2 separate regions of the Homo sapiens genome follow, and region 1 is linked to region 2. The links come from fine-mapping of genetic effects on gene expression. A gene starts in region 2. The other region holds a variant in brackets. All regions are shown on one strand. Distances are from middle to middle.

The links. PIP is the estimated chance that this variant, and not a neighbour inherited with it, causes the effect.
Region 1: its variant is fine-mapped to the expression of SCLY in whole blood (TOPMed, PIP above 0.99).

What each region holds. Positions count from the first base shown.
Region 1 is chr2:238,003,084-238,019,418 of GRCh38, forward strand. UBE2F (ubiquitin conjugating enzyme E2 F (putative)) reads left to right here. Exons shown (of 10, transcript NM_080678.3): 5 at 13,483-13,550. All of the region lies in intron 4 of UBE2F-SCLY (UBE2F-SCLY readthrough (NMD candidate)), which reads left to right. Among named protein-coding and RNA genes, the nearest start is that of UBE2F, 44 kb to the left of the region's middle. The variant C/G (reference allele first, on the strand shown) is at 9,263.
Region 2 is chr2:238,052,452-238,068,786 of GRCh38, forward strand. It overlaps SCLY (selenocysteine lyase), which reads left to right and starts at 8,550. Exons shown (of 12, transcript NM_016510.7): 1 at 8,550-8,692; 2 at 11,906-12,018; 3 at 15,614-15,714. The coding sequence starts at 8,604. UBE2F-SCLY (UBE2F-SCLY readthrough (NMD candidate)) reads left to right here. Exons shown (of 19, transcript NR_037904.1): 8 at 4,707-4,799; 9 at 11,906-12,018; 10 at 15,614-15,714. RefSeq lists an enhancer at 4,831-5,000, a cis regulatory region at 4,916 and silencers at 7,960-8,169, 8,310-8,759.

The DNA.
Region 1 (16,335 bases), 49 kb before region 2:
TTTCAGACACATAAAATTTATACTCTCATCCCTGTTTCTTTCTAGCTTGATTTTTAATTTTAGTATGGAGATAAACATTATAAGGGGGATAAATTTGAAGAAGCACAGTTTTTTTTTTTGGTGGAATCTTTTCTTTCAAATAATCTTAAAAATACAGATGCCAATTTTCTTGCGATGTAGAATAGAAATGTGATGTTAGCTCTTAAAATGTCAGTTATCTGCCAAAGCATTCTCTTAACTTTCATCAGGAAAACATTGACTGCTCTCTCCTTGCTCCTTCCAAGAATTTGGCTGGTGTGATGCTTCTTTGCTTACTGTGCCTACTGAGTAGGCCACCCCATCATCTGATACAGAGACACCTGATCTGTTCTCACATTGGTCTGTCCCCTGCCTTAAATGTAACTCCAAGTCAGATTCTCTCGTGGGATGCTCAGGCTTCCTGAAGTGAGTATGACATGAATTGTTTTAAAAACCATTCATTTCCATGGGCAAAAACAGATTCTGGTGGTCTCCAGTAAAAATGTATATAGTGCGTATAAAATCTCCAAAACTGACATAGTATTTAAATCTTAAGTTTTTTGGCATTTAAAAAATTACCACCACTCTTTAAGTTTCCCGTTCCACCTGATGGTGTCTTTTATGTGGCACAGGCTTTTTATCTTTTTTAAGAATCATGTTTAGTGGGCTATAATTTACATACAGTAAGTTTGCCATTCTTAGATAGACAGCTCTCTGCCTTTTGACAGGCCTACGCACTCACATAACCACCACTGCAATCTTGAGGAAGTTTCCATCACCTCAAAAAGTTGCCTCGATCTGCTTTGTAGATCCCCTCTCCATCCCCAGCCCCTGGCAATCATCGACCTGATTTCTTTCCCTGTAGTTTTCCCTTTACTAGGATATTATTTAAATGAACCCAAACAATATGCAACATTTTGTATGTGGCTTCTCCCACTTAGTGTAATGCTTTTGACATTCATCCATGTTGTTGTGTTTATTGTTATTTCAGTTGTATGGGTGTACCACAGTTTGATTATCCATTCATCAAATGGTAGACATTTGAGTTGCTCTCAGTTTTCTTAAATTATAAGAAACTACAAAATTGTTCTTTCCAAGTAGCTGCACTATTTTGCATTCCCACCAGCACTGTATGAGAATTCTAGTTGCTCTGTATTTTCACCAGCATTTAGTTGAAAAAACTTTACTCATGGTAGTGGTTACATGGTGGTATTTAATTGTGGTATTAATTTGCATTTTCTTAATGACTGTCTCTTTTTTGGAGATGCGTCTGCTCAACTGTTGTGCTCATTTAAAAAAAAATAAGGTTTTTTTTTCTTATTGTGGGATTTTAAGAGTTCTTTACCATAGATACGTCTTTTATCAGATGTGTTTTATAAATGTTTTTTCCTAGTCTATGGCTCGTCTTTATTTCCTTAAAGACCTTTTAAAGACCATGTATTTTAAATTCATTTGGGGATATCCAACTTATGATTGTTTTCTTTGTGGTAATGTGGTTGGCAGAATAATGGCCCTAAAAGATGTCTGTGTCTTAATTCCTGGAACCTGTTGAATGTGTTATGTTTCATGGCAAAAGGGAATTAGAGTTGCAGATAAATTAAGATTGCTAGTCATCTGATCTTAAGGGAGGGAGATTGTCCTGGAGTTTCTAGGTGGACCCAGTGTAATTACAGGGATCCTTAAAGTGGAAAGGGAGAGAGAAGCAGTTAGAGCCAGAGAAGGTGATGTGACAATGGAAGCAGGAAGCAGGTGAGGCACTGGCAGAAAGACTCACCTGCCACTGCTCCCTCTGGAGATGGAGGAAGGGCCCATGAGCCCTGGATGCTGGCAGCTTCTGACCGCTGATAGTGCAAAGAGACAGCCTTTTCTGGGGCATCCAGAAAGGAGTGCCCTCTTGCCAACTTCATGATCTTAGCCTAGTGAGACCCATTTTGGTCTTCTGGCCTCCAGAAGATAATAAATTTGTATTGTTCAAGGCACAGAGTTTGTGGAAATTTATTATAGCAGCAATGCAAAACTAGTAAGAATAGTTTGTGTTTGTTGTGTCCTAAGAAATCTTTGTCTAAGAAATACAAAGATTTTCTCTTATTTTTAAAATTATTTTATTTTTTTGAGACAGGGTCTCGCTCTGTTGCCCCAGCTGGAATGCAGTGTCACGATCATGGCTCACTGTAACCTCCACCTCCTGGGCTCAAGTTATCCTTCCGCCTCAGCCTCCTGAGGTAGCTGGGACCACAGGAACATGCTACCACACCTGGCTGATTTTTGTATTTTTTGTAGAGACAGGGTTTCACCATGTTGCACAAGCTAGTCTTGACTCTTGGGCTCAAGTGATCAGCCAACTTTGGCCTCCCAAAGTACTGGGATTACAGGCAGGAGCCACCATGCCCGGCCTTATTTTTTTAAAAGCAGAAGTTTTATAGCTCTAGGTTTTATGGTTAGGTCTGTGATCCAGTTTGAGTTAATTTTCACATATTATACAAGAGAAGAGTGTAGTTTTCTGGTTTTTTTTTTCTATCTCTTTTTTGCATTGTCCATTTCTAGCACCATTTGTTGAACAGGGTTTTCCCATTGACTTACCTTGGCACCTTTGTTGACATTACATGACTATATGTGTGTGGGTGTGCTTCTGGACTCTGTTCCATTCCATTGTTCTGCACGTCTACACTTGTACAAATACTACTGCTTGATTATTATGGCTTTATAGTAAGTCTTGAAATCCCATCATGTGACCTCTGACTCCTTCAACATTTTTCTACTTTTTGGTAGAAAATTATTTTGGTGATTTTTGTTCCTTTACTTTTCCACATACACTTTAGAATCAGCCTGTGAAATTCGGCAAAAAACTTGCTGAGATTTTGATTAGGACTGCATTGACTCTAATGTAAATCAATTTGGGGAGAATTGCTGTGTTTGTTTATTTGCATTGCTATAAAGAAATACCTGAGGCCAGGTAATTTGTGAAGAAGAGGCTAATTTTGGCTTATGGTTCTGCAGGCTGTGTAGGAAGCACGGTGCTGGCATCTGCCTCTAGTGAGGGCATCAGGAAGCTTATAATCCTAGCGGAAGGCAAAGTGGAGCCGGCATATCACATGGTGAGAGAGGGAGCAAAAGAGATGCAGACTCTTTTAAACAACCAACTCTTGCATGAACTAACAGTAAAAACTCACTAATTACCATGGCACTAAGCCATTCATAAGGGATCTTCTCCATCACCCAGACACCTCCCACCAGACCCCACCTCAAACAAACAATGGGCATCACATTTCAACATGAGATTTGGAGGGGACACACGTCCAAACCATATCAATTGTCATCTTAATTATCACATCTTCTAATCCATGAACATGGTTTATATCTCCATTTCAGTTTTCTGTTGCTAGTACATAAAAATACAGCTGATTTTTGTATAGTGACCTTGTGTCCTACAACCTTGATAAACCTGCTTTTCATTGTAGTAGTTGTATTGTGGATTCTGTAGACTTTCCTATGTAAACTATCATGCCATCTATGCATAAAGACAATTTTATCTCTCCCTTTCAGTCTGTATCCTTCTGTTTCCTCTTCTTGCTTTACTTTGTTGTCTAAGACTTCCAGTACAGTCATATATAGAAGTGGTAGGAGGGACATCCTTGGCTTGTTCCTTTTTTCTTTTTTCTTTTTTTTTTTTTTTTTGAGAGTTTCCTTCTTGTTTCCCAGGCTGGAGTACAATGGCATGATCTCAGCTCACCACAACCTCCACCTCCCAGGTTCAAGCAATTCTCTTGCCTCAGCCTCCCAAGTAGCTGGGATTATAGGCATGCACCACCACACCCGGCTAATTTTTGTATTTTTAGTAGAGATGAGGTTTCACCATGTTGGTCAGGCTGGTCTCGAACTCCCAACCTCAGGTGATCCGCCTGCCTCTGCCTCCCAAAGTGCTGGGATTACAGGCGTGAGCCACTGCACCCAGCTGGCTTGTTTCTAATCTTAGGGGGTTGCTGTCAGTCTTTCATCATTACGTGTATGGTTTGCTGTAGGGTTTTTGTCTGTTTTTTCGAGACAGAGTCTTGCTCTATCGCCAAGGCTGGAGTGCAGTGGTGTGATCTCAGCTCACTGCATTCTCTGCCTCCCGGGTTCAGGCGATTCATGTGCCTCAGCTTCCTAATTAGCTGGGACTACAGGTGCCCACCACCATGCCCAGCTAATTTTTATATTTTTAGTAGATATGGCATTTCACCATATTGGCCAGGCTGGTCTCGAACTCCTGACCTCAGGTAATCTGCCCACCTTGGTCTCCCAAAGTGCTGGGATTACAGGCGTGAGCCACTGAGTCCGGCCTTGCTATAGGGTTTTTGCAGATGCCCTTTATCAGGTTGAGAAGTTCTTTTCTACTTCTTGTTTGCATATATACATATATATGTATATGTATGTATGTATTTTTTTTTTAATCATGAATGGATGCTTTTTTCCTCCCAAACCAAAAATGGCCAATAATGAATGGATGCTTAATTTGCCAAATGCTTTTTCTGCATCTACTGAGGTGATCATAATGGTTTTTCTGTTTTGGTCTGTTGATAAGGTAAATTACATTAATAGATTATTTTTCAAATGTTGAACCAAAGCTGCATTTGTGAGATAAACCATAATTCATCATGTATTATGTGTTAATGGTTTCATATATTGCTCAGTTTGATATATTAGTATTTTGTTAAGAATTTTTACAAATCCTTACCTGTCTGTGAGGGATATTTGTAGTTTTTTTTGTAATGAGTTGCCTAATTTTGGTGTCAAGGTAATGCATTCTGGTCTTTGAATGCATTTGGGGAGTGTCCTATTCTCTGGAAGAGTTTGTGTAAAATTAGTATTAATTAGTTAATTGATTTTTTTTTAGACAAGGTCTTACTCTCTTGCCCAGGCTGAAGCACAGTGGCACGATCACGCCTCACTGCAGCCTCAACATCCTGGGCTCAAGCAGTCCTCCCGCCTCAGGCTCCCAGGTAACTGGGACTACAGATGCCCATCGTCTGTAGTGGGCAGATGCACTACCATGTCCAGCTAATTATTTTTTGTAGAGACGGGGGTCTCACTATGTTGCCCAGGCTGGTCTCGAACCCTTGGGCTCAAGTGATCCTCCCAAAGTGCTGAGATTACAGGTGTGAGCCACTGTGCCTGGCCTATTAATTCTTTATTCAGTGGTAGAATTCACCTGTGAAGCCACCTGTCTCTGGAATTTTGTTTTGTTGTGGTAAGATTTTAAGTATAAACACAATTTCTAATAGATATAGGGCTGCCTAGGTTATTCTTGAGTGGGCTTCACTAATTTGTGTCCTTCAAGGGATTTGCTCATATCATCTGCATTTTTCAATTTATTGATATAATGTTCTTAGTATCATCTTATCCTATCCTTTTAAGTTCTGTAGAGTTTGTGTTGTATCTCCTCTTTAATTACTGATGTTGTAATTTTTGTCTTTTTCTCTTGATCAGGTTAATGAGAAGATTGTCAATTTTTTGACCTTTGCAAAGAACCTACTTTTAGGTTCATTGATTTTGCCCTGTTGTTTTTTGAATTTTGTTCATGTCTTTGTTATTTCCCTCCTCTTTATTTCCAGTTTAATTTGCTCTTCTTTTTCTGATGTTTAAGATGGAAGCTTAGACAAACAGTAGTATGTTTCCATTTCCCAGCTCAACCTTTATATTATAGTTCTCATTTGTTTTACTTTTACATATGTTGTAACCCAGAATATATTATCTGTGCTTTACAGTCTGTTTTTAAAATATATGTCTCCACATACTTAACATTTATGACCCTCATTCCCTTTTGTAGATCTAGATTTCTCCTCTCTGTTATTTTCCTTCTGCCTAAAGAACATCCTTGAAGATTTTTTTGTAGTGCAGATTTGCTTGTGATGAATTCTGTCAAGTGTTGCTGAAGTTTGAATTCTTAAGTTGACAGTTTCAGCATTTTAAGGATATCATTCTACTGCCTTCTGTATTTTTTCCTTACAAGTTAGTGGTGATTCTTTGTTCCACTTTATGCGATGTGCATTTTATTCTCTGGCTGCTTTTAAGATTTTCTCCTTATCACTGCTTTCAGCAGTTTGATTATAATGTGCTTTGAAGTGGTTTTTTCTTTTTATCACACTTGGGGTTTATTAAGCTTTTTGGATCTGTGAGTTATAGTTTTCATCCAATTTAGAAATAATTTGGCCAACATTTCTTTAAATATTTTTCTGTGATCGTTTTCTGGCACTCTAGTTTATATATCTATATCATATATGTCTTACATATAGATTACTTCTACGTGTAAATTATACCTCCATTGGGTCGCAGGTCTTCGTTCACTTTTCTTTCTGTGCCTCATTTTGGACAGTTTGTTTTTCTGCAATGTCTCATTTGCTGTTAAGCGCATCCAGTGAATTTTTCATTTCAGATACTGTATTTTCTAGCTGTTGACGTTCCATTTGGTGCTTTCCCCGTAACCGTCCATTTCTTTCCTCATTATGTTCATGTTTTCCTCTAAGTCTCAGCATCTCTATACAATAGCTGTCATTGTGCCTTTGTCTGCAGCCCTGCATCCCAGAGTCCTGGCCACTCCCTGGTGCCCATGTCTGTGCTGCCTCCTGCCTCCGCTCACACTCACTTCCTCTTCTCCACCATCTGTCTCTGTCTCTTCTCTTTCAACAGTCTGATCTGAGATGGATCAGAGCCTTTTAAGTTTAAAGTTTGCATAGGATGTCACTTCCAGGGTGCTGTAAATATTGACATTTAAAAATGAAAGTCTTATATTACTCTTTGAAATGTTTCCAGTGTAGAATATAAATACCACAGATATGCCCACCACCACAGATACTCCCATCATCACAGTTTTTTGTTTTTTTGTTTTTTTGTTTATTTTGATGTGAATAAGCTCTACTTCACTGGCTGGAAAACCTTTGCTAGTTTTTCTCCTGGCACTCATGTTTTCATTCCACTTGTTCCCTTGAATTGCACCCTAATGTAAACATTTTTATGCTTTTAAGTATTTTATTTGTCATTTTTTTATACTCTTCTGTAACTAGATATACAGGTAGATAGATAGATTGAGCTTTATTTATTTGGTTTTTTTTTCGATACAGAGTCTTGCTTTATTGCCCAGGCTGGAGTGCAGTGGCACAATCTTGGCTCACTGCAACCTCTGCCTCCCGGGTTCAAGTAGTTCTTCTGCCTCAGCCTCCCAAGTAGCTGGGAATACAAGTACCCGCCACTATGCCCGACTGATTTTTGTATTCTTAGTATAGACGGGTTTCACCATGTTGGCCAGGCTGGTCTCGAACTCTTGACCTTGTGATCCGCCTGCCTTGGCCTCCCAAAGTGCTGGGATTACAGGCGTGAGCCACCGTGCCCGGCCCAGAGCTCACTATTTGAAAAGTTCCTATAACTGTAAGACTCTTAGGTGTTAAACATTTGCTTTTGAACGATTGTTGCAGTTGTTATTTGTACAGGCTCCTGCTTCTGGTTTTTCCTCCTTTGTCTCTGGCTGCCTGTCCTCTGCCTCATCTTCCAGCCCCTCAAAGTGGGGGAACCTCAAGGCTTCACCCTGTCTTTGGACCTGTATAGTCAGTTCCCTGGTGTCCTGGCTATCTTGTGACATCAGAATGCTTTACCCTGAATGGCTCCCAAACTGCCCTCTCTATCCAACCTCTCCCAGTACTCAAGAATGATCTGTCAGCTGCCCACTCAACACCTCCACTGGGATGCCAACTTGAAATCTCAAGTTAATGTGTCTGATTTGAACTTCACACAGTTGTGCCATCTGCAGTCCTTTTATCTTCATGGTAGCAACTCTGCCATTTCCATTGCAAGGTCAAAGATCTTCTTTGACTCCTTCTCTCCTCCCTCCGTGCCTAATCTGTCAGCAAATTCTGGTGTTGCTGCCTTCAAAATCTGTCTACTTCACCTGCTCCCACCCTGATCCTAACCATTACCATCTCTCACCTGGATGATTACAACAGATAACCACAACTGGGCTCCTGCTCTGCGATCCATTTATATGCTCCTGTGCCTCCCCTACTCAGACCCCTTTCATGGCCGCATCTCACTCTGAATCAGAGCCAGCTACATGCAGGGGCCTGCAGGGCCCAACACCCTTTGCATCTGCTCCCTCTTTGGGCTCAGGTCCTCTTCCTCCACCTCACTCTCTGACCACATTGGCTTCTGCAGGGTTCACGGAACATACTAGGCCTCTTACCGTACCCACCCTGTTTCATCTGCCTGGAGTGTCCTTCACCCCAGTACCCTCCTCCTTCAATTCATCATTTTCTCTGACCTCCCTGCTTAAAACTGCAGCCTCTTCCCACTTTCTACTCCTTCTATTATATAATTTATGTATTTTCTCTCCCTTCCACTAGAATATACGCTTCATAAGGGCGGGAATTATCTCTTGTTGATGTGTCACCAGGGCCTAGAACTGTGTGTGGCACATGGTGGGCACTCATCAACTATTTGTGTAATGAATAATGAATTTAAGCAAATTTTGATGATAATTAAACATTTCACTTGCAGTGTATCTCTGAAAATGATGGGGTTACTATTAGCATTTTCCCTGATTAAATTGATGCATTTGTGAATGAATATTATTTTATGCTAGAAACAAAGGTCTGATACCAGTTTTCTTCCATTATTTTGTCTTTATAGATATAAACACTCAGGACTGCTTGTTCACATAAATAAGTAGATTAGATGGGCATGGAAAGTGTCTTGTTATGGCTGTGCCATTTTGTCTTTGGACTTCAAAGTTAAAGGCCAAAGATTGTACAAAGTATTTTCTTTTTTTTGAGACAGGGTCTCACTCTGTTGCCCAGGCTGGAGTGAAGTGGTGCAGTCATGGCTCACTGCAGCCTCAAATTTCCAGGCTCAAGCAATCCTCCCACCTCAGCCTCCTAAGTAGCTGGGACTACAGGCACACACCACCACACCTGGCAATTTTTTTTTTTTTTTTTTCTGTGGAGATGGGGTTTTGCCATGTTGCTCAGGCTGGTCTCAAACTCTTGAACTCAAGCAAGCCACCTGCCTTGGCCCCACAAAGTGCTGGGATTACAGGCACGAGTCACCTTGCCTGTCGTCATATAAAGTATTTTCATGATTTTTCCACTGACTGTTAGATTAGATTCCTTCTTCCATTTTGTTGAAAGTAGAGAATTGGAAGCCACCTGACTTGGAGAAGGCTTTGTCACTCAGTCATTGGAGTCCTTTGCTTCAGTTTCTGAAGTGTCCACCAGAATCA[C/G]TTTACCAATCCCTGTCAGCTGCAGGGACATCAAATGCTTTTCTACCCTGAATAGTTACATCTGTCACTCCTCACTTCAGAGCAGCTTTGCAGGCTTTTGCTGGAAATGCTGAGGAAGAGTTGAGAGAAACAGCAGTATTATTAATTTCCACATGCTAATATGTATACCAATGTAGTATTTTTAAAAATCTTATTACATTCTTCCTATTTTCACCCAAAGCTTGGAGCTCCAGATTCAGCCCATTCAGTTTATCAAAACTATCTGCCATATACATTAATTGTCAAACTAGTCTGCGAAATCACTCTTTCCCTCAGGCAAAAGTCTTACTTCATTTTCATTCTAACAATATGCCTCTGACAGCCATCTCACTCTGAGCTCCTGGAGGTTCCTAGTTAGATAGGTGAGACGTGGAACTGGTGCCCTAGGTGGAGGAAGGCACCATGGCTGTTGTTTCTTGGCATCCTCTTTTGTTGGCTCTCAAAGGGGTAATGCCTGCTTTTACAGTGGTCTAGGGTTTGAAGTTACTAAATGAAGTTTTCATCATCCCTGCCATCAGACTCCACAGTGTCTGAACCCAAGACACTCCAGCGTGAACCAGGACATACTATTTATAATACCATGCTTTGTCCTTTACAGAAATGGGTATAGGCCAGGTGTGGTGGCTCATGCCTGTAATCCCAGCACTTTGGGGAGGCCAAGATGGGCAGATCGCTTGTGGTCAGGAGTTTGAGACCAGCGTGGGCAGCATGGTGAGACCCCATCTCTACAAAAAAACTAGCTGGGCGTGGTGGCACACACCTGTAGTCCCAGCTACTTGGGTGGTTGAGGTGGGAGGATCACCTGAGCCCTGGAGTTCGAGGCTGCAGTGAGCTGTGCACCCCAGCCTGAGCAATTGAATGAGACTCTGTCTCAAAAATAAATAAATAATTTAAAAAAAGAAAGAAAGAAATGGTTATAGATAGGGAAAAGCGAATGGAGACACAGTGGTGGGGGAAAAAGCAAATATAGGGAAAAGCACAACCCTACCTTAATGTGTCGCTTTGAGGTGGCTTTACCCTTATCAGTGCGTCACGGGTACTTTTGTCCCCTGGGAATGTCCACTCCTTGAGACAGTTCATTCTAGTACAGGGGGAGATGGGAGGTAGGCCTTTTTTTGCAGGGGGGAAGAAGGTTGTAGAAGAGGAGGTGGGACAGAGAGCTGGCATGACTCCTTGGCCTCAAGGGCGTTGTCCACAGATTTGTTACCAGACAGAGCATATGTGGATGTCGGCCATCTAGAATCTAGAAATGGATTCTGTCACAGTGATTTGAGGCGACATACCCCTTCAAAAGGTTTGTTTTCCCAGGGCTCTCGGTAATCTTGAAGACACTGGAGTATGGTTCCTCAAAGGTAGTGAGGAGTGGGCTCTAAAGCACAAGGAAAGAGGAGGATAATTCCTCTAATTGTAACAGTGGGGCAGGGGCCAGGCTGGCTGATTGAGAGCTGAGTGCCAGGAACTTCCCTCAGTTGCATTTCATTATTGTATTTTAAAACCTAGTTGTCTGAGAAATGTGTTTTCAGTCCCAGCAGCCATGGACGATAGTAACATAGAATTGGCCTGTCCTGGACTTGTGTACTGTGCTGTGGGCCACGGTGCACGTGTAGTTACAGACATTCTCAATGAGTCCACTACCTGCCGGCTGTGGAAGTGAGCAGGCCTTCCTTGAACCGTCTCCGCCTTGGGCCAGGTACTCCCAGAGCCAGGTGTAGAAGGTGAATCTGAACTCTTAAGCTGGGGACATCGTGAAGGAAACCTTGTAAATAAGAGATGCTCTTGGGTTTCATCTCAGTCCAGTCTGCTCCCAAGCTGCTTTTTAAGTTGGACTGTGGAATTTCTGGGCAAATTAACAATAATAAATAAGCAGATTTGGATCAGGTCTAAAAACTGTGCAACTTCAAAGAGGGAAAAAGAAGTACTGATGCAGGAGCAGATCATTTTCCTGAGAGAGATTTGTTTCATGAAAGAGAAAAAAATAAAACAGTCTGTTCTCACTTTTTAATGAGTTAAGAGAAGATATAATCCTAATAATTATTAAGGAAGAACTTGACTGGAGCAGAGGGAATAAGGTGAAGTGATAATCATATTAGACCAAATAACATCTTTGAAAGTGGTAGGCAATAGAGTTGAAACTCTGTAATCCATGAACTGGAAAGCCAACTAGAGAAAAAATATAGCATGGCAGGATGGAATGGCCAGAGCACAGCCACGACCAGGGTGTCTCGCATGGGTAGTAATCATTCCTAAGGGAAAGGAAAAGGACAGCGCGGGTGAAGCAGCATCATCCAAAAGCTGTGTAACAGTTCACAGAGTGGACTGCGTGGTTTGTAATGTTAAGCCTGGCATTGGATTTCTGTGTTGTGCCACAGTGGTCAATATCACAATACATGTAAGACACCAACATCCACACATGCTTTGATGAACAAGGATATGTACTCTGAGTATTTTATATCTAAGATGCCACTTATTTGAAAAGTTCTTATATCTGGAGTTAAAAATTTCCCCAAACAAGTATCTTTGCCAGAGACTTTATACTGCCAGTCAGAAATCCAAGTGTATTTATAAAAACTAGAAATACGCATCTCAAGTAAGTGGAGGAAGGCTAGAATAATAAACGCCGTTGGGGTGATTAAGCAACCAGTTAGGAAAAAAAATACGACCTTAGTCTGCAATCAGTTGATGAATGAATGAGCTGATTAAATGTAATCTATGAAACCATTAAATTACTAGAAGAAAATATAAGAGGATATTGATATAATCTTGGTTGGGAAAGGCCTTTTCTAAGCATGACCCCAAAGACAGAAACCCTAAAGAAAGATTAGCTTCTTAAAAATGGAAAACTAGTGTTCAGAAACCACAAAATCAAAATGCAAACAGCAGACTAAGAAAAATTGCTTGTAGCCTATTTAAAAAGCAAAGGCTAATTAAGAGATTTTTGTATTGGTAATTAAAAGATGAATACCTCAGTAATAAAAGGAGAGTTTCAGAACATTGATCATTCAGTTCTTAAAAGAAAAACCTAAATGACCAATAATCATATAAATTTTAGCCTCACTAGTATTCATCAGAGAATGTAAAATAAAAGAGAACTGGTATTTCTCTTCTATCAAATTGGCAAAGAAAAAAAATGTTAGGGTCCAGGTAATGCCAGTTTTAACTACTAGATGACATAAATGTTGATACGGTCTCAACTCTTAAGGAATGGAATTTTTTTTTAATGATGACTTGTTTGAGGCTAACAACTTGCTGTTATGCATTCATTTCATATAAAAATTTGAGGAAAATGATAAGATTTAATATTACTGGTTTGTTCATGATGATAAATATTTTAGGGGAAGTTGAATTTTAATTTTAAAATGGTGCTAATTCTGTCAAATTTGAAAATTGAGAATAATTTATTTCCAGTGGCTTTTCCAAGCTCATTCATGCTGAAGTGCCCTCTGCTGGCACCAGCAGCCACTTAGTGACCCCAGGCTGGGTACCACCTGAGGAGAGGGACTGCCCTGTGGGGTCTACAGGGTGTGGGGGGCGGGGTAAAGAGGGAGTGGGGGTACACAGCATGTGGATGGCAATGTGGTGATGCTCAGACCCTGGGCTTCCTCCTTCGTGCCTACCAGCCCGCGTTTCTAGAAGGCCTGCTCTGTTCTGAAGGCTGCATCAAGCAATCACTGAGGCAGTGATTCTGTCAGGTTCACTGCTGTGTCCCCAAGGCCTAGAACCATGCCCAGCAGAGGTTGGGTGCTCAGTAAGGGTTTGTTGGTGACTGTTAGTCTTGTGTCCTCCAATTGACATTCTCTTGGGGAGACCAGCAGTAAGCAGATAAAGAAGTCACTTAAGGCATGAGATGTGTTCGGAGGGTTGTAGGTTCCAGGAACATGGTAGGATGCAAGGAGGCCAGGCAGATGGCCCCAGAAGGATGTCCCTTCCCTTCCCTGAGGGTGTGCTCAGCCCCCTGAGAAGACAGACAGGCAGGTGACAGCATGGAGCCCATTTCTGTTCAGGCAGGGGCAGGACTTCCACCAGTGTGTGTGCATTTGGTGATGGAACCGAGGAACTCTGCAGGCCTGTTTTTAAACTCCTGATTCTCTGTATTTGCCATATCCTAACAGAGTGTTTGCTTTTTGTTTCCTTTTTTTTTTAATTTAAAGGATTTTTTTGTTTTGTTTTGTGTTTTTTGATAGATGAGGGTTACTACCAGGGTGGAAAATTTCAGTTTGAAACTGAAGTTCCCGATGCGTACAACATGGTGGTGAGTAGCCTGCGTTGAGCCTGTTGTTTTACTTCTCGGGCGGGGCTGCCTGTGGCTGTGGCCCGCCACTGGCACAGGGCCCTAGCACTCCCCTCTGCGTGTGTCCATGTGTGACTGAGTACTCACTTCAGTATTTTTGTGATGAATGTCACTCATCAGCAGTATTTAGAGTGTTAGTAGAGAATTCCGTTTATTCAGCAAATACTTATGAGTACTATGTGCCAGGCAGCCTGCCTGTGTATTTTCTATAACTCTTATCTGTTACAGTCTGGCACTGAAGAAAAAAAGCATTTAATAAAATGACTGTAGTTTTGTTCATGATATAACACCAAAATTCCAGAAGTCTATAAAATGTGTATTTTAGAATTTCAGAGAACAGTGACTTGTAGTTTAAACTATAAGTAATTTATACCTATAGTTTCATGTTAATCCCTCAAAGATCCTTTTAGACAATAATTATACCAAATACCATTACATTATGTCTTTGCTTTGGTGGAACTTACAGACCAATTAGGAGAGATAAAGTGTAGAAAGTTGATAAAGCGATAAAAATGGTAAGTAGAGGACAGTAGTGATACTCATCAATGATAGGAAACTAGTTTTTGAGAATTCAGAGAAGGGAAAGTAATCATCACTTTGGAAAGTGGTCAGGGCTAGTTAAGCTTTTAGGGGGAAATCTAACTGGAGTCACCCCGATGTGGCCCAGAACCAGGGGAGGGTATTCTAGGTGACATGGAAACATGATGAACTGTGGTGACAGGTGTGGACATGAGAACTTGCAACCTGCAGAAGGCAGATAGGGCCAGGTCAACTCGAGTGAAGAATTGGAGTTGGGGAAGAATAGAGGAAAAAATGGGAAAACTCAGATGTGGGGGTTTGGTTGGGCATTTTCGATTTGGCAGTGACAAACCACTGGAGAGTCTGAATAATTCCACACCCCCAAGTTGGGGTATTAGAGGAGGTGTGGCTGCGCTTCAGGGACGGGTGTGATGTGTCTCGGCCCAAATTGCCAGGGGTTGACGTACAGGCAGTTCAGCATGCTTGTCTTACTGGCGTGCACCATGGATATGTATTCCTACTCACGTGTTCTAACTAACCCTCTTGGCCCGTCCAGTAGGAAAGCACAAGCTGATGGTGCTGCCAGAGAAAAGGAAGCCTCACTCCCATCATGAGGATGTGGGCATTGGGGACACTGTTCCTGTGACTTCGCTTGTGGGAAGTGTGCTCCCACTGCCTGACGAGTGGAGTTGCCCCCCAACCCCAGCCACTGGGCTCCGTTCAGTGGCTGCAACACTTGTTTTAGAAGCAAACCTTCATCTATGGAAATTGACTTTTTACCGGACTACTCCATTTAAGGTTCTTTTTGAAATGTAATTTATGGGGATAGGGAAGAGTTGGCAGCCCAAGAAATTTTTAAATTTGTAGACAAAGATGGGAAAATACACATTTCCAGTCTTTGTCCATCCACCACCTGCTGAGACTTTCCATCCTTCCCAAACCACACTGAGAAACCTGGCGACGGAGCACTGCACCATGTCCGGTGGGAGGTGGTTCCAGAGGCTTGGTTTCAGTACAGATGTTTAGAATTTGGGGACTCTTTGGTGGTTTCTGGAAACAAACAGGCATACAGTATTTAAAATTCTGTATTTAGATTTGCTGCTAAATACTTATGACATACCGTTCTGGATGTCATAGCAGGGAGTTAAGTCTAAGCTGATAAACTTTCCAGACAAGTCGTGAGGCATCAGAGAACCATTGTTTCAGGTATATCTGGCATCATCTAGGAGCAGAGCTCCTTGTTTTCACTATAGGAAGAAAGCAAACTAAGAGAAAATACCAGGGAAGGAATGGGCATGATTGAGAGCCTCTGTGTGCCAGGTGTCTTGACTCACATTACTTTATTTCATTCTTCTGATGGTTCAGTGGGTTATTTATTTATTTATTTATTTAGAGACGGAGTCTTGCTCTGTTCCCCAGCCTGGAGTGCTGTGGCGTGATCTCAGCTCACTGCAACCACCAGCTCCCGGGTTCAAGCAATTCTCCTGCCCTAGCCTCCTGTCAGTGGGTGATCTTAACATTCATATCTTTATACATTAGGAAGTTTGGGTTCTGAAAGCTAAAGTTAAAAACATTAGCTTTGCCAATGGAGACGGCTGAATTGTTGAAGTCACTTAATGTCCAGGGCTGCCCAGCTTTTAAGCGTGTGCCCTTCCTACCACATCAGGTGGTGAGAAAATGTTTGTCATACTGTCTTGTCCCATTTGTGACTTCAAGAAATAGGAAGGAAAATGGAATAAAGAATGACTTGAAAGCCACTGAGCCTTGAAGACTTGTTTCCCTTATTAGTTTCCCTTATTAGTTTGAGACTGGCACAGAGGTTGAGGTGGAGGGGTAAGGCTTAAATTTTCCTGTCCTTGTCTCAGACCTGCTATTCCCCAGCCCCCCTCTCCCCTCCCCACTACTAGTCCCTGTGGGGAAACATCATTCCCATGCAGCCTTTCTGAAGTTCTGTGTGCTGTGTTTGACCTTTAGCTCTGTAACGATGATCTTACATTTTTCTATTTCCACTGCTGTCTCTTTTGGAAGTTTCATAAATGATGGGCTGGTCAGATTTCATCAGGAATAAAACCCCATGTTCTCAAACCCAGAAGTACTGAGAGCAGCTGGTGGCTCTGCATGAACCATGTTCCTACCCTGCTTCTGTAGGGTCCTTTCCTCTCCTTTCCCCAGCGTTTCCTTCCTGTCCCCCCTGCCTTTTTTTTGATACAGAGTCTCACTCTGTTGC
Region 2 (16,335 bases):
ATATTATAATACAAAGATTAAGTCAAATGAATTAAAGACCTAAATACAAGAGCCTGGCTAATGGTGAAACCCTGTCTCTACTAGAAATACAAAAATTAGCTGGGCATGGTGGCACACGCCTGTAATCCCAGCTACTTGGGAGGCTGAGGCACAAGAATTGCTTGAACCTGGAAGACAGAGGTTGCAGTGAGCCGAGATCGAGCCACTGCACTCCAGGCTGGGCAACAGAGCAAGACTCCATCTTACGGAAAAAAAAAAAAAAAAGTTTACTGGTTGCTAGGGTATGGGAAATGAATACTAATGAGCACAGTTATTTCTTTTTGGGGTGTTGAAAATATTCTGGAATTGGTGATGGTTGCACAACCTTGGGAATAGACGAAAATCCACTGAATTGTGTACTCTAAAAGGGTGAAGGTTATGGTATGTGGATTATATCTCAGTTTTTGAAAACAGTATAAAGAAATCAAGACAGAATACTGAAAACTGTTCAGGTAACCCAAAGGAAGGCAAGTAAAGAGATACAGCTTGAAACCCAGATGAAACAAACAAAACGGTAGATTTAAGAGCTAACATATCAGTAATTCTCTTAAGTCAAAGATTGGCAGAGTGGATTAAAAGACACAACTCAATTATATTGTTTAGTAGAAACTCCCATCAAATTAAAAAACATTTGTAGATTGAAAGGATGAAAACAGATATGCGGAATTTAATTTAAAAAAAAAGCAGCAGTGACTATATTGATATCTGATCACTTAGACTTCAGAGCAAAGAAAATTGGCAGAGACAAAGACAGATATTACATAACAGAAGATTCACCACCAGACAGTCCTACATGTGCCTTTACCAACATCAGACTCTCAAAACACATGAAGTAAAAACTGATAGAGCTGAAAGGAGACAGACAAATCTGCAGTCACAGTTGGAAATTTCAGTTGCTGAGTCATTACAGTGAACATGCAATTACTGTATGCCCCAGCTACTACATTCTTGACCATTTATCCCAGAGAAATGAAAACTTACGTTAACACAAAAACCTTTACACCAATGTTTATAGTAGCCTTATTTATAACAGCTGTAATCTGGAATCAGCCCAGGTGTCCTTCAACCTGTGAATGGTTAATCAAACTGTGGTACACACATACCCTGGAATACTACTCGGCAGTGAACAGCAATAAGCTATTCACAGCAACTTGGACCAGTCTCCAGGAATTACACTGAGGAAAAAAAAAAAAAATCTCAAGAAGTAACATGCTGTATGTTTTTGTTTATGTAACACATTTGGAAAAACAAAATTTTAGAAACACAAGAGTTTAGTGGCTGGCAGAAGTTAGAGACAGGAATGGGCAGGAGGAGGGGGTGGATTTGTTTTTAAGACTAATACAAGGATCCCTGTAATGATGGAAATGTATCTTGATTGTGGTAGTGGATACACAAATGTACACATCACAAAATTGCATAGGGCTAAACACCCCACAAATGAGTAAAGCTGGGGAAAAACAATGAATTGTATCAATGTCAGTATCCTGGTTGTGAGATATATATACATATATATATATATATATATGTATATATATGTATATATATATATATATATATGTATATATATGTATATATATATATGTATATATATGTATATATATATATGGAGAGAGAGAGAGGTGGAGAGGAAGTATTGCTCTGTTGCCCAGGCTGGAGTGCAGTGGTGATCTCGGCTCACTGCAACCTCTGCCTCCCGGGTTCAAGTGATTCTTCTGCCTCAGCCCCCCGAGTAGCTGGGAGTACAGGCACATGCCACCACACTTGGCTAATTTTCGTATTTTTAGTAGAGACGGGGTTTCACCATATTCACCAGGCTGGTCTCGAACTCCAGACCTCGTGACCTACCCACCTCGGCCTCCCAAAGTGCTGGAATTACAGGCGTGAGCTACCTCGCCTGGCCCTGGCTGTAATGTTACACTATAGTTTTCAAGACGTTAATCATTGTGGACAGCTGGGTAAAGGATCTTTTTTTTTTTTTTTTTTTTTTTTTTGAGACAGAGTTTCACTCTTGTTGCCCAGGCTGGAGTGCAATGGTGCGATCTCAGCTCACTGCAACCTCCGCCTCCCGGGTTCAAGTGATTCTCCTGCCTCAGCCTCCCAAGTAGCTGAGATTACAGGCATGCGCCACCATACCTGGCTAATTTTTTGTATTTTTAGTAGAGACAGTATTTTTGTATAGTTTTTTGTATAGTAGAGAGTATTTTTGTATTTTTGTTGGTCAGGCTGGTCTCGAACTCCCGACCTCAGGTGGTTCATCCGCCTCAGCCTCCCAAAGTGCTGGGATTACAGGCGTCAGCCACCACACCCAGCCAGGATCTCTTTCATTTATTTACATCTGCATGTAAATCTACAATGATCTCAATACAATTTTTAATTAAAAATATATATCCAGGCCAGGAGTGGTGGCTCATGCCTGTAATCCCAGCCCTTTGGGAGGCTAAGGCAGAGGTCAGGATGGCTTAAGCACAGGAGACCAGCCTGGGCAACATGGTGAGACCCCATCTCTACAAAAAATACAAAAGTTAGCCAGGTGTGGTGGCATGCACCTGTAGTCCCAGCTAGTTGGGAGGCTGAGGTGGGAGGATTGCTTGAGCCTGGGAGGAGGTTGCAGTGAGCTGAGATCATGCCACTGCACTCCAGCCTGGGTGACAGAGCAAGACTCTTGTCTACAAAAATAAAATAAAATAAAATAAAATAAATCCAGCACACACCAGAGAAAATATAATATGCCTAGCATTCAATTAAAAATTACAGGCCGGGCTCGGTGGCTCACACCTGTAATCCCAGCACTTTGGGAGGCCGAGGCAGGGGGATCACCTGAGGTCAGGAGTTTGAGACTAGCCTGGCCAACATGGAGAAACCCTGTCTCTACTAAAAATACAAAATTTAGCCGGGCATGGTGGCGCATGCCTGTAATCTCAATTACTTGGGAGGCTGAGGCAGGAGAATCACTTGAACCTGGGAGGCGGAGGTTGCAGTGAGCCAACATCACGCCCCTGCACTCCAGCCTGAGCGACAGAGAGAGACTCCATCTAAAAAAAAAAAAAATTAGAGAAAGACACTGGATGGGTTTAACAGCAGCTTATATGTTACAAAAGAAACATGGACTTCAAGATAGAGCCACAAAGACAATCCAAAATAAAGGGAAAAACTGGGAACCTCTCCCCCCATGAGAACTTCATGAGCTGTGAGATAACTCATAATTGTGAATCCCCAAAGAAGCAGGGGAGAAAGAAATATTTGAAAAGAAAAAATTTCCAAATTGATAAACACTCTAATCCAATGGGTCTGAAAAGGTCAACAAACCCAAAGCACAAGAGCATGAAGAACGCTACCCCATAGTGAAGTCTCATAATGAAACTGCTCAAAATCAGTGACAGAGCAAAATATTTTAAATAGTTTTTTAAATTTATTGTGAAGAATGGGATCTCGCTATATTGCCCAGGCAGGTCTGGAACTCATGGGCTTAATCTGTCCTCCCACCTCTGCCTCCCTAACTGCTGGGAGTACAGGCGTGAGCCACTGTGCCTGGCCAGAGCAAAATATTCAAAGCAAGCAGGAAGGAAATAAAGAGACAACATATAGAGGAACAAAGATAAGAGTGACAACAGATGTCTCGTGCAGACAATACAAGCAAGAAAATATTGGAGAAGTAACTCTAAAGTGCTGAAAGAAAAAATCTCAAGCCAGAATTCTAGATCTAAGGAACATATCAAATATGAAGGCAAAATAACAAGTTTTCATGTGTACAAAAGCTGAAGGAAGCATACCAGCAGACTAGCACTACAAAGTCCTTTGGCAGAAGAAATGATACCAAATGGAAACGTGGAACCACATCAGGGTTTCTCCCCTTTGGCACTGGCGACACTTGGGGCTAATAATTTATTGTGGGGGATGCTCAGTAGTATAAATAGCCTCACTCACTACAGCCCAGAAGCACCACAGCTCCTGTTATGGTAACCAAAATTGTCTCCAGATATGACCAAAGGACCCCTGGAAGGAAAAATCACCTCTGCTTGAGAATCACCATATTCAATGGACAATTTTATTTCATATTTTCCATCTCTATCCTTTTGAGCAATAATCAGAGAATTCCTAGGGCCAGTTCACGAATTCACTCCTCAGCTATGCCTATTCTGCTCTTCAACCCATCTATTGGGGGGTTCTAAAAAAAACAATAAACCTTATTTATTAGAGGAGTTTTAGGTTCACTTGAAAATTGAGCAGTTACCATATATCCCCTGCCTGTGCACATGTACGCAACCTCCTCCACTATCAACATCCACTGTGGTACTTTTGTTAACAACTGATTAAACTTCATTGACACATCATCACCCATAGTCCATAGTTTACATTAGGATTCATTCTTGGTGTTGTATCTTCTGTGAATTTTGACAAATATATTACATGTATCCACCATTATAGTATACAAAATAGTTCATTGCCCTAAAAATTCTGTTCTCTGCCTATGCATCTTTTCCTTCCCCAACACCTGACAACTCATGTTGAGTTTTTAAACTTCAATTATTAATGTCTAGTATCTCTTTTCACTGTTTGTTCTTGTTTCATGACAGCCTATTTTTTTTTTTAAATAAAATACCCATTTGTCTCAAGACCTTGCTCTATTGGAGACCTACTCTGATAGCTCTATAAACTTTTTCCCTTAGGTGAGAATTCTATTTGGTGCACGTGCTATTGTGTCCGGAATTGGTGGGTTCTTGGTCTCACTGACTTCAAGAATGAAGCCGCGGACCCTCGCGGTGAGTGTTACAGTTCTTAAAGGCGGCGTGTCCAGAGTTTGTTCCTTCTGATGTATGGATGTGTTTGGAGTTTCTTCCTTCTGGTGGGGTTTGTGGTCTGGCTGGCTCAGGAGTGAAGCTGCGGACCTTCGCGGTGAGTGCTACAGCTCTTAAGGCGGTGCGTCTGGAGTTGTTCGTTCCTCCCGGTGGGTTCGTGGTCTCGCTGGCTTCAGGAGTGAAGCTGCAGACCTTCGTGGTGAGTGTTACAGCTCATAAAGGCAGTGTGGACCCAAAGAGCGAGCAGCAGCAAGATTTATTGCAAAGAGTGAAAGAACAAAGCTTTGACAGCGTGGAAGGGACCCGAGCGGGTTGCCACTGCTGGCTCGGGCAGCCTGCTTTTATTCTCTTATCTGGCCCTACCCACATCCTGCTGATTGGTCCTTTTTACAGAGAGCCGAGTGGTCTGTTTTGACAGGGCGCTGATTGGTGCGTTTACAATCCCTGAGCTAGACACAAAGGTTCTCCAAGTCCCCACCAGACTCAGGAGTCCAGCTGGCTTCACCCAGTGGATCCCCCACTGCGGCTGCAGGTGGAGCTGCCTGCCAGTCCCGCTTGCCCTGCGCCTGCACTCCGCAGCCCTTGGGCGGTGGATGGTACTGGGTGCCCTGGAGTAGGGAGCAGCGCTCGTCTGGGAGGCTCAGGCTGCGCAGGAGCCCATGGAAGTGAGGAGGTTCAGGCATGGCAGGCTGCAGGTCCCGAGCCCTGCCCCACGGGGAGGCAGCTAAGGCCCGGCGAGAAATCCAGCGCAGCGCAGGTGGGCTGGCACTGCTGGGGGACCCAGTACACCCTCCGCAGCCGCTGGCCCGGGTGCTAAGCCCCTCATTGCCCGGGGCCGGCGGGGCCGGCTGGCAGGCCGCTCCGAGTGCGGGGCCCGCCAAGCCCACGCCCACCCGGAACTCCAGCTGGCCCAGAAGCGCCCCGCGCAGCCCTGGTTCCCGCTCGCGCCTCTCCCTCCACACCTCGCTGCAAGCTGAGGGAGCCGGCTCCAGCCTTGGCCAGCCCAGAAAGGGGCTCCCACAGTGCAGCGGTGGGCTGAAGGGCTCCTCAAGTGCCACCAAAGTGGGAGCCCAGGCAGAGGAGGCGCCGAGAGCGAGCGAGGGCTGCCAGGGCTGCCAGCACGCTGTCACCTCTCACTATCTTCATGGAGATGCCATTCCTCAAATGTCTGGCCACTATGGGGCACTTGTGTTTGTATTAGAGACATCTTGGTAGGTCATCTGTTGCATGTGTGACCAGTATACTTGGAATGGTGGTAGCTGCTGCTGCGTGTTGTACCCTAAACTGTTTTCAGCTGGGCTACCTCAGCACCTGGGCTTCTGTATGTTTGTACTCAATTCTTTCGGGGTATCACCAGCCATGTTGGACACTATCTTGTCTGACTCCACCACTACACTCACTATGTTCACCTGGAAACACAAACCTTATTGCTGCCTAACTGGCCCAAGGAGTGCTTGGGATGAATCGTCACTTTGTCCATTGTCCTTGGGCTCCTATCCTTACAGCCTTCCAAACAGATTTAGAGAATGAATTCTCCCCATGCCTATCAACTTCCCTAGCCACCTTTACTCTTAACTTCATCCCCTATCGTCTCCTCCAGGACTTTGGCTCCTCTTCCTTGCACGTCCTGTTGGCTAACTCCCTTTAGCCTATGAACATGTTCAGTCTCTATTTGCTCTTAATCTTTTTTTTTTTTTTTTTTTTTGAGACGGAGTCTCACTCTGACTCCCAGGCTGGAGTGCAGTGGCATGGTTTCAGCTTCACTGTGTAACCTCCACCTCCCAGGTTCAAGTGATTCTCTTGCCTCAGCCTCCCCAGTAGCTGGGATTACAAGCATGCACCACCACAGTCGGCTACTTTTTGTATTTTTAGTAGAGACGGAGTTTTGCCATGTTGGCCAGGCTGGTCTCGAACCCTTGACCTTAGGTGATCCACCCACCTCAGCCTTTCAAAGTGCTAGGATTACAGGGGTGAAGCACCGCGCCCAGCTTGCCTGTAATCTTATACGCCTTTTTAATTCCTCCTTTCTCAACCGTTTTAAGAGTTGACTGCATTCTTCATTTTTTCATATCCCATCTTTGCATTCTAACTTCCATGCCTCTCCCATCACTGAGACTTCTCTCGCTAGTTTATCAGTGCCTCCTAATTGTTACGCACAGTAGACTTCGGATTGCCTCTCAGCCACACTTTACACTATTATGTGTCTTCTTGACTTTTTTGACATTCCTTCTCAATTCCCTTTCCTTTCCTCCTCTTTTGACTGTTCTCATGCTCCTGTGCATCCATTTGCTTCTTAAATGTTGGTGGGCCCTTTGCTATTGGCTGCATTTGGCAAGAAATGAGCTGCGTTTATAGGGAAGAATGAGAGAGAATGAGTCCAGAAATTTGCAGATTTGCTGTGCTGGAAAAGCCAAGTTATTCTGGACCCCAACAGGACACAAAATAGAGAAAGCCCATGAAAAGCCAATTAAAATTCAACCTCTTGGCAAAGCATGCTTGAAACCGAATTTTGGCTCCAGCCACTACTCGTGTGAACTTGGGCAAGATGCCTTTCTGTATCTTGGATTCCTCATACATAAATACCTACCAGACTGGGTTAATCATCAAGATTAAATTAGTGAACACACGAAAAATACCTAGAACACTGCCTGGCATAGTTCAAGGCTCAATTAAAGGTAGACACTATTATGCCAAAAAAACAAAAAACAACAAAAAAAGTGACGGTAGGATGGCTTCGTGAGGATTTTTGCTCATTTCTACCACTTTCTCAACTGACTTTTCTTAATGGTTGGCGGGACACCAACCATTGGTGGATGTTTACACTTGTGACTGTCTCACAGACAACTCAACATGTCCAAAGCTAAACCCATCATCTTTCCCCCTCCCGTCTTCCCTCTTACCCAGATAAAGGCACTAACATCTTCCCAGTCACTTGTCTAATCCTTGCTTCCTTCCTGTCCCTCATGCCCCAATTCCTATTTAACGGCCTAAACAGATCTTGAATTAATCTTTCCTGCGTTTCCACGCCCACTTAGAGTCCCTCATCTCTGGCCCTATTTTCTCAATGCCCTCCCATCCTCTACTCCAGATCCCCTCAAGTCCATCCTCGATGCGTGACTCTTAACTTCACGCCATCCAGGTCCCCTATGGAGCCGCTCCGACTAACGGACGCGCAGGTCCAGCGGACCTGCTCATCACTGTCCAGGGTGGCCTGCGGGAGACCCCCGGGGCCCTGGCCCTGCTGCCGCGGCCCCGGCACTTCCCCTCGAGGGTTCGCGGGGAACAAGGCCGCGCGGCCCCGGCTCTCCCGGAGTGCACGGTCCCGCGCTCATGCGGCTAGAGGGAGGCACCCGCAGGACTGCCCAGCCGCCTCTGCTCCTCAGGTCCAGCTCGGGCCCCGCCTGCTCTTACGCCGACTAACCGGCCGCGGCCCGATGGCGGCCCTGCCGCAGACAGCAAAGGTCACGGGGCTCCCCCGGAAGTGAAAGTGCGGGGATCCGCCGGCCCAGGAGACGCGGCTTCTAGCGCCCGGTTCCCGGGAAGCTCTGTGACGCGCTAAGCCCCGCCCCCACCCGTCACCTGACCCAGCGCAGCCTCGCCTCCCCGCTGGGGGCTCGGCGGCCCTCTGAAGCGGGTGGATTGGCTGGGGTGCTTCGCTCAGCCAATCCGGACGCGCCCGGGCGTCGCGGCCCCGCCTCCTCCCCGGCGCTCTGGGCCCGTAGCGCTCCGCGGGAAGGAGGCTGGATGCCCGGCAGCAGTGGGGCGGGGATGGAGGCGGCCGTGGCGCCGGGGAGGGATGCGCCGGCACCCGCGGCGAGTCAGCCCAGCGGCTGCGGGAAACACAACTCGCCGGAGAGGTGCGCGCCTTTAGGGCAGGGCTGGGGAGCGGCCGGCGCCTGTCGCCGATTGTCCCGCGCGGGAGGACGAAGGGGGCTCCCGGCCTGTGGCCGCTCTCGCGTGGGGCGTCCCGCGCGGGGATGTCCGCGAGGTCGGCCTAAGTCAGGGATGCGAGCTTCAAGGAGGAGCGGGTGCGAGCTGTGGCCCCGCAAGGGCCCACGGAGAGGTGACTTTGGGGCCGAAACCCGAGTGACTTCCAGGGGTGAGGTTTGCAGGTTCTGGGGAAGCAGAGCCTGCCAGGAAGAGGGCACAGCAGATGCGAAGGGCAGGGGACTTGCCGGAGGTGAACCGGCAGAGCCCCTGAGCCCGGGAAGAACTTTGGGGTTCATTCGGAGCCTTATGGGGCCTCGGAAGTTGATCACGGGGCGATGCAATTTAAGTGTTTTGAAGGAGTCCTTCTGGCTGCTTCCTAGAAAGTAGGGGCGCGGGTAGGCATGGGACGAGAGGAAGCCGGGAAGCCAGTTGGGGATCTTGTAACAACCTAGGAGAGAGATGTGGTGTGCGCCCAGAAACGGATGCGTTGGTAGGAAGCTGGTGCACTGGGGCAGGTGAAAGGGAATCAAGGGTTCTCCCAGACTGCTGGCCCAGCTGCAGGAAACGGGATGGCCACCGCTGAGAAGCGCGGAGACCCGAAGCACGTGGTATCCATACTAGTTAAGTCCGAGAAGAGCAGGAGGCAGGGGTATGCATTTTCTGGTTTGTGTGTCTTCTTTCCAGACCCCTCTTTTTCCTTTTTGTGAGCTCATTCGCTACCCATGCTTAGAATATGAGGGGGTCCAGGCCTAAAGCACACACATTTGGCATTCTACCTTGGTTGGAACAAAGTGAAGGGATCTGGGAAAATATCCCCTAGGGAATCAGTGGAGCGAGATTCCCAAGATTTTTTATTTTTTGGTTATGAAGCTAACAAAGTTGAGCCTGCTCATCCAATACTGATAGCATTTTAAGGAAGCAGCAAATAATGAAGCAAAGGAATGTGTAAAGTATTAATCTGAACAAAATAGATTTGTTCAGCCCAGCAGCAGATTGAAGAGCTACAGTCGCTCAACAAACACTAGCTAGCCTAAGGTACTTTGGATGCTTATTTATAGGAAAGAAAAACAGATATAAGGGCACATGCAAAGTCAAGCCGGGCTGGGGGATTCCTAGGACTATTAATACTAGTACCAGAGTGGTAAAGGATGGCGAGTCAAACTTGTCAAAGCCTTGTACCTATTGAGTGATTTTTTTTTTTTTTTTTAATTGAGATGGAGTCTCACTCTGTCACCCAGGCTGGAGTGCAGTGGTGCAGTCTTGGCTCACTGCAACATCCACTGCCCGGGTTCAAACGATTCTCCTGTCTCAGCCTCCCAAGTAGCTGGGATTACAGGCACGTGCCACCACGTCCAGCTAATTTTATTGTATTTTTAGTAGAGATGGGGTTTCGCCGTGTTGGCCAGGCTGACCTTGAACTCCTGACCTCAGGTGATCTGCCCGCCTTGGCCTCCCAAAGTGCCGGGATTACAGGCGTGAGCCACAGGGCACAGCCTGTTGAGTGATTTTGAACAGAAAAGATGCTTCATTTCAACTAATGCACATTCTGTCCACACTCAGTGGCTTAACAGCCACAGTTAGTCATTGTATCTGGGTTTTCATGTGGATTGGTGTAAGCACTGTTTATTTAAAAACTAGATAAATTAATATCAGGCAGGACTACTACTACACATTTTTCTAAAGGCTTTCGAAGGTTTTGGATATTAGTAAAAAGATATACAGATAAATTTTACTTAGTGAGGGATCTTTCAGGGAATTTGTACTTTCTGTGGCATTTATTTTGTCATCTTATAAAAATCAGGCCCCTGTTGTGTGGCAACCATGGGCTTCAACATTGGTGACAGGGCAGTGAGAAAAACAGAGCCCCCATGCCCATGGAGCCATACTTCTGTTACTCTATTAAGGTAGACAGTAAGGGAACAAGTCTGGTATGTCAGATGATGATGCTGCCCAGAAAGGAAGGCGGGAAGGGGACCTGGAGGCTGGGGAGGTAGGGACATAGGTGGCTGCAGTTTTGTGGGTTTGTTTTTTTTGTTGTTGTTTTTTTTTTTTTTGAGACGGACTCTCACTCTGTTGCCCAGGCTAGAGTGCAGTGATATGATCTCGGCTCACAGCAACCTCTGCCTCCTGGGTTCAAGCAATTCTTCTGCCCCAGCCTCCCTAGTAGGGCTAATGTTTGCATTTTTAGTAGAGATGGAGTTTCACCATGTTGGCCAGGCTGGTCTCAAACTCCTAACCTCAAGTGATCCACCTGCCTTGACCTCCCAAAGTGCTGGGATTATAGGCGTGAGCCACCGCGCCCAGCCAGCTGTAGTTTTAAGCAGAGCTGCAGGGCAGGGGGTCTCACAAGAGGACTAAGTTGGAACAAAGACCTAAAAAAGTAAGGTGGGGGCAGGGCATGTAGTCTTTCTGGGCAAAGAAACTGAAAGTGCAAGGTCTGGGGCCAAAGTTCACCTGCCCCAGGGAGAAGCCCAGGTCACTAGGAGCCCCACAGGCCATCGCAAAAATGAGTGTGGGGAAATAAGGCGAACCTCTGATGAAGTTAAAACAGCAGACAGGAAAGTTCCCTTGGGGAATGTGCAGCTGTTCCCCTCCTTCCATAAGGAAGAGGCCAGTGATCTGCCCTTTACAGCAGTCAGATGGGTAATCTGGGCCCAACAGACCATTAATCCTACCAAGGGGTAGAAAGAGTGTTTGTTATTAGAGACTGGGTCTGGCTGTGTTGCCCGGGCTGGAGTGCAGTGGCTATTCATAGGCACCATCATAGCTCACTGCAGCCTCAAACTTCTGGCCTCAAGAGGTCATTCCGCCTCAGCCTCCCACATGGCTGGACTACAGGCACAATCCACTGTGCCTTGCTAGAAAGAAATTTTGAAAACCGAAATGAAAATCCAAGTCCTATCAATTATAAAAGAAATTGACAAAAACTAGAGTCTTAGAAATTATGCATGCATTTTCCATAAGTAGTGTAGATCTGTAGATTCCCAAGTGCAGCTTGTGGATGCCTGCAGTGCTTATGCAGAGGATCACCATGCCCTTGACATTATTTGCTCCTGCCGATGGGATAGACACAGAGCAGCCATATTTCCCATATGCCATCTCCTTTTCCTTAATGGGTGTCTTTGCTTTCTTTCCTTCAGGAAAGTTTATATGGACTATAATGCAACGACTCCCCTGGAGCCAGAAGTTATCCAGGCCATGACCAAGGCCATGTGGGAAGCCTGGGGAAATCCCAGCAGCCCGTATTCAGCAGGTAATTCTAGAAGATGCACGTGTTCACTGATGGGAGATAATGGGGATGGGGCGCTCTTAGAGAAATTGCACACCCACACGTGACGGCTTTGTTTTGAATAGGTTTCTGTTAGCTGCAATTCTTGAGCTGTAATTTTTGATAGTTTCTTTTCTGGGAAGGCCCCATTTGTAAGCTGAGCCTTGTCGATACTGTAATCTTTAACCTTTAATGTTTAATCTTTAACATGCTGTCCTGTCACCCTTTCCCAGATGAGAAAGGTGTCTACTGAGAGTTCCTTGAAGTAGCAGTCAGTACCTGTGGAGCACTTCACAGATCTAGCTCAGTCAATCCTTACAGAATTTGCAAAATATGTCTTTTAGGTCATCAGGATAACATATAATCCTGGCCCTTTTTAAAGATGAAAATTACTTTTTCATTAATTACTTTAGTTATGAATATTCTTATTTGTTTCCAATTTATTCTTATTGTAATGTAGACCATTAAATTGGAGGTTTTGGAGAAGAATTTGCTTCAAGTCAGTTATATGACAGAGTTACATTCTGTTTTTCAGACAGATGAGCAAGCTAAAGTCTTACCTTTCTTATTTCATGTTTATGAGAGATAATTAAGATAAACTGTGTTAACTGTGGATGATGATGAACTAAATTAACTTCAAACAGAATATTGCCAGGCCATACGATTTAGTAACACTTGCGTACAATTTACAGGTTTAATACGTTCTCCTATCCATTTGCTTATTAAACGTTTCACGGCAACTTAATAACAAAGCCCTTCAGCTCAGATACTAGTCATTCATTAACTTATTTGTTGGCTTATTTGTTGGTCTATTCTGGCTAATCTTCTGCACATTGCCTCGTATCCAGTCTCTCCTCTAGTAAAATTGAAATTTCTGACGTATTAGACTTGAAAATATGGAGAATAATTAAATGCCGATGACAGGCATTGTCTCATGAAAAAGTCTGGGAATCGCTCTCAGGGAGAAATCATGTTCTGGACCTGAATGAAGCCTGGCAGTGGCTTTTAGGTTTCCTTGATAGCCTTTGTTTCCACAAATTAAGAACCATAAACTCAAAAGTGTTGCAGTTCACTTTGTGTTGCTACTCAGATCGAAATGCAAAAGAAAAAAAATCAATTTATAGAGTGGTTTAATTATTTTCACAATATTGTTATTTAAACTAATAATATTTTATTTTATTATTATTATTATTATTATTATTATTATTTTGAGATTGAGTCTCGCTCTCGCCCAGGCTGGAGTGCAGTGGTGCAATCTCGGGTCAATGCAACCTCCGCCTCCCGGATTCAAGCGATTCTTCTGCCTCAGCCTCCCAAGTAGCTGGGACTAGAGGCACGCGCCACCATGCCTGGCTAATTTTTGTATTTTTAGTAGAGACGGGGTTTCACCATCTTGGCCAGGCTGGTCTTGAACTCCTGACCTTGTGATCCACCCACCTCGGCCTCCCACAGTGCTGGGATTACAGGTGTGAGCCACCATGCCCAGCCTAAATATTATCTAAAGCCTTTGAGGGAAATTTATTTTAAGGAATATGTTGAGGATGTGGGGATTTTACATACCTAAGATATTTATCACAGTCTTGCTTATAATAGCAAAACAAACAAAAACCCTGAAAATAAGCTCAGCATTCATGAATTTTTATGAAAAATAAACTATCTTCGGCAAAACAAGAAACCTAGTGAGCATTGCACTGTTGTGCATGTGGAAGTCTCTTTACTGCCTGTTGCTGGAAGATAGCTGGCGCTCATACCTCCCCGTCCAGCCCACTGCAGTCACATCATAGTGACGGAAGCCTCTGGAAGGTTCACCATATACCTGTGAGAAAAGGAGCGTGAAAAAGGCAGTTCTTCTCTTAGTATCATCATGAAAACAGTTTTGACTTTGTGGACCTCCTGAGAGGGCCTTGGGGTTTTGGAAACCGCTGACGTAAGCAGCACTGACTGAGCACCAGCTGTGTACTCAGCACCCTGTTGGGGGAGGGATGAAGCACGGTGCCCAAAATGTATTTGGGTTTTCGAGGCATTACTTTGTCCACTATGTGGAGAATGGACCCTGGTGGGGGCCTGCTAGGAGAACATCACAGCAGTGGCCTTGGCTTGGTTGGTGGCTGGGCGGTGGAGAGGCAGAGTCAGGTTTGGAACATCGTTTGAACACAGAGCCTACAGCATTTGCTGGTGGATTAATTGGCGGGGAATGAAAAGGGAAAGAGCCCACGCTTTTGCCCTGGGCTGCTGAGGGATGGAGTTGCCATTTCCTGAGTGTATTAGTCTGTTCTCATGCTGCTAATGAAGATGTACCTGAGACTGGGTAATTTATAAAGGAAAGAGGTTTAATTGACTCACAGTTTCCCATGGCTGGGGAGGCCCCACAATCACGGAGGAAGGCGAAAGAGGAGCAAAGTCACATCTTACATGGCAGCAGAGAAGAGTGTGCGTGCAGGGGAGCTCCCCTTTATAAAACCATCAGATTTCATGAGACTGATTCACTATCACGAGACTAGCATGGGAAAGACCTGCCGCCATGATTCAGTTACCTCCCACCGGGTCCCTCTGATGACGTGGGAATTATGGGAGCTACAATTCAAGATGAGATTTGGGTGGGGACACAGCCAAACCATTATCACTGAGAGAGGGAAGGCTGAGAGTGAGGGTGACAGTTTATTACGGTGACTTTTAGTGTCACCAAGAAAAATGATGGAGTTTTCCTAAACACCACTTAGGTGTTTAGGAAACTACTACTAAAACTGACATCTATACAGTAGCGTTAAGGAGCAGCAGAATTACTTTGCATATTTATTTTACCTCAGCTTTTTATATTTCTCTTTTTTATGATGTTTCGTAATAGTATATGTTTTAGCGGTGCCTGCTCAATTTTTTCTTATTTTTAAATAAGACTGAATGGTCAAAAAAGTTTGGGGACTCCTGGTGTGTACACTAAGAATGGTCACTGAAACTTTCGGCATTCCCATGCCAGAGCCTTTCCTTCTTTGCCCCATCAAGCATGGTTGCTGTGTTTTCCTTCTAGCCAGTGAAACTGGGTGATGGCCGGATGCATAGCCCTGTTTGAAAGCAGGTGTGTCCCTGAGACAGTAACCTTTGTAGCCCAGGTACCCTGTGGGCGACATGCAAAATGAGATATGGCACTGGACTTCGCGTCGAGTCATGAGTTCTGTTTTTGCTTATTTTTGTTGTTTGCAACTCATTCCATCCTTTCATTCTCCTCTCTTGATGAATGGGAAGCAAGGCAGATGGCCACAGCTGCCCTCCCTCTAGCATCCAGTAAGAAGAAAGCCACATCTTGGGGGACGTCCAGGTTCATAGCCAGACTCCCTTACTTGTTTCTGGGTCTCATGGAGTTAATAACTCTCAGTTTGGTCCCTGGTTCGCTGCTGTCTCGGCCGCCCCTTTGCCGGGTTGTGTCTAGGTTGTAGCATTTTGCTGTGCTCACATTAAGGGGCCAGGTTTTGTCTTAGAACGGCCCACGCAGACCTCTTATTCCTTTGTATTTGGTTGTCCTTTTAGATGCGTTGATTGAGCTTGGTGAAGCAATGTTAATGAATTTCCTTTTTGGTCCCTCAAGGAAGAAAGGCCAAGGATATTATAAATGCAGCTCGGGAAAGCCTCGCGAAGATGATAGGGGGGAAACCTCAAGATATAATCTTCACTTCCGGGGGCACTGAGGTAAAGCTTCTGAACACACTCACATTCTGTTAACTGTAAGTTATAATAAAATACACAGAAAGTGATTTCCTTTTGCTACATTTTCATTTAAAGAAAGAGTAGGCCAAGTGTGGTGGCTCATGCCTGTAATCCCAGTACTTTGGGAGGCCAAGGCAGGAGGGTTGGTTGAGCCCAGGAGTTTGCGACCTCCCTGAGCAACATAGGGAAAGTCCATCTCTACAAAAAAAAAAAAAATTAGCTGGGCGTGGTGGTGTACACCTGTAGTCCCAGCTACTAGGGAAGCTGAGGTGGCAGAATCATTTGAACCCAGGAATTCAAGGCTGCAGTGAGCTATGATCACGCTGTTGCACTCCATCCTGGGCAAGAGAGTGAGACCCTGTCTCAGAAAGAAAGAGAGTAATGTGTGGTCTTGCTATATTGCATACTAGCTCGAGATAATTAGTATATATCCTTTAAGTAAATTCCAGGTAGCCGATAGGATTTTTGTAATGTAATATGTAAAGTAACCTGCTTTGCATTGTTATTTCCATAAAGGTTTCCCCGTCATTGTTGCCCTGGAATCAGTCCTTTTCATCCCTAATTGATAGATATTTAAGGACTTTCCAAGGTTTTGCTGTAACA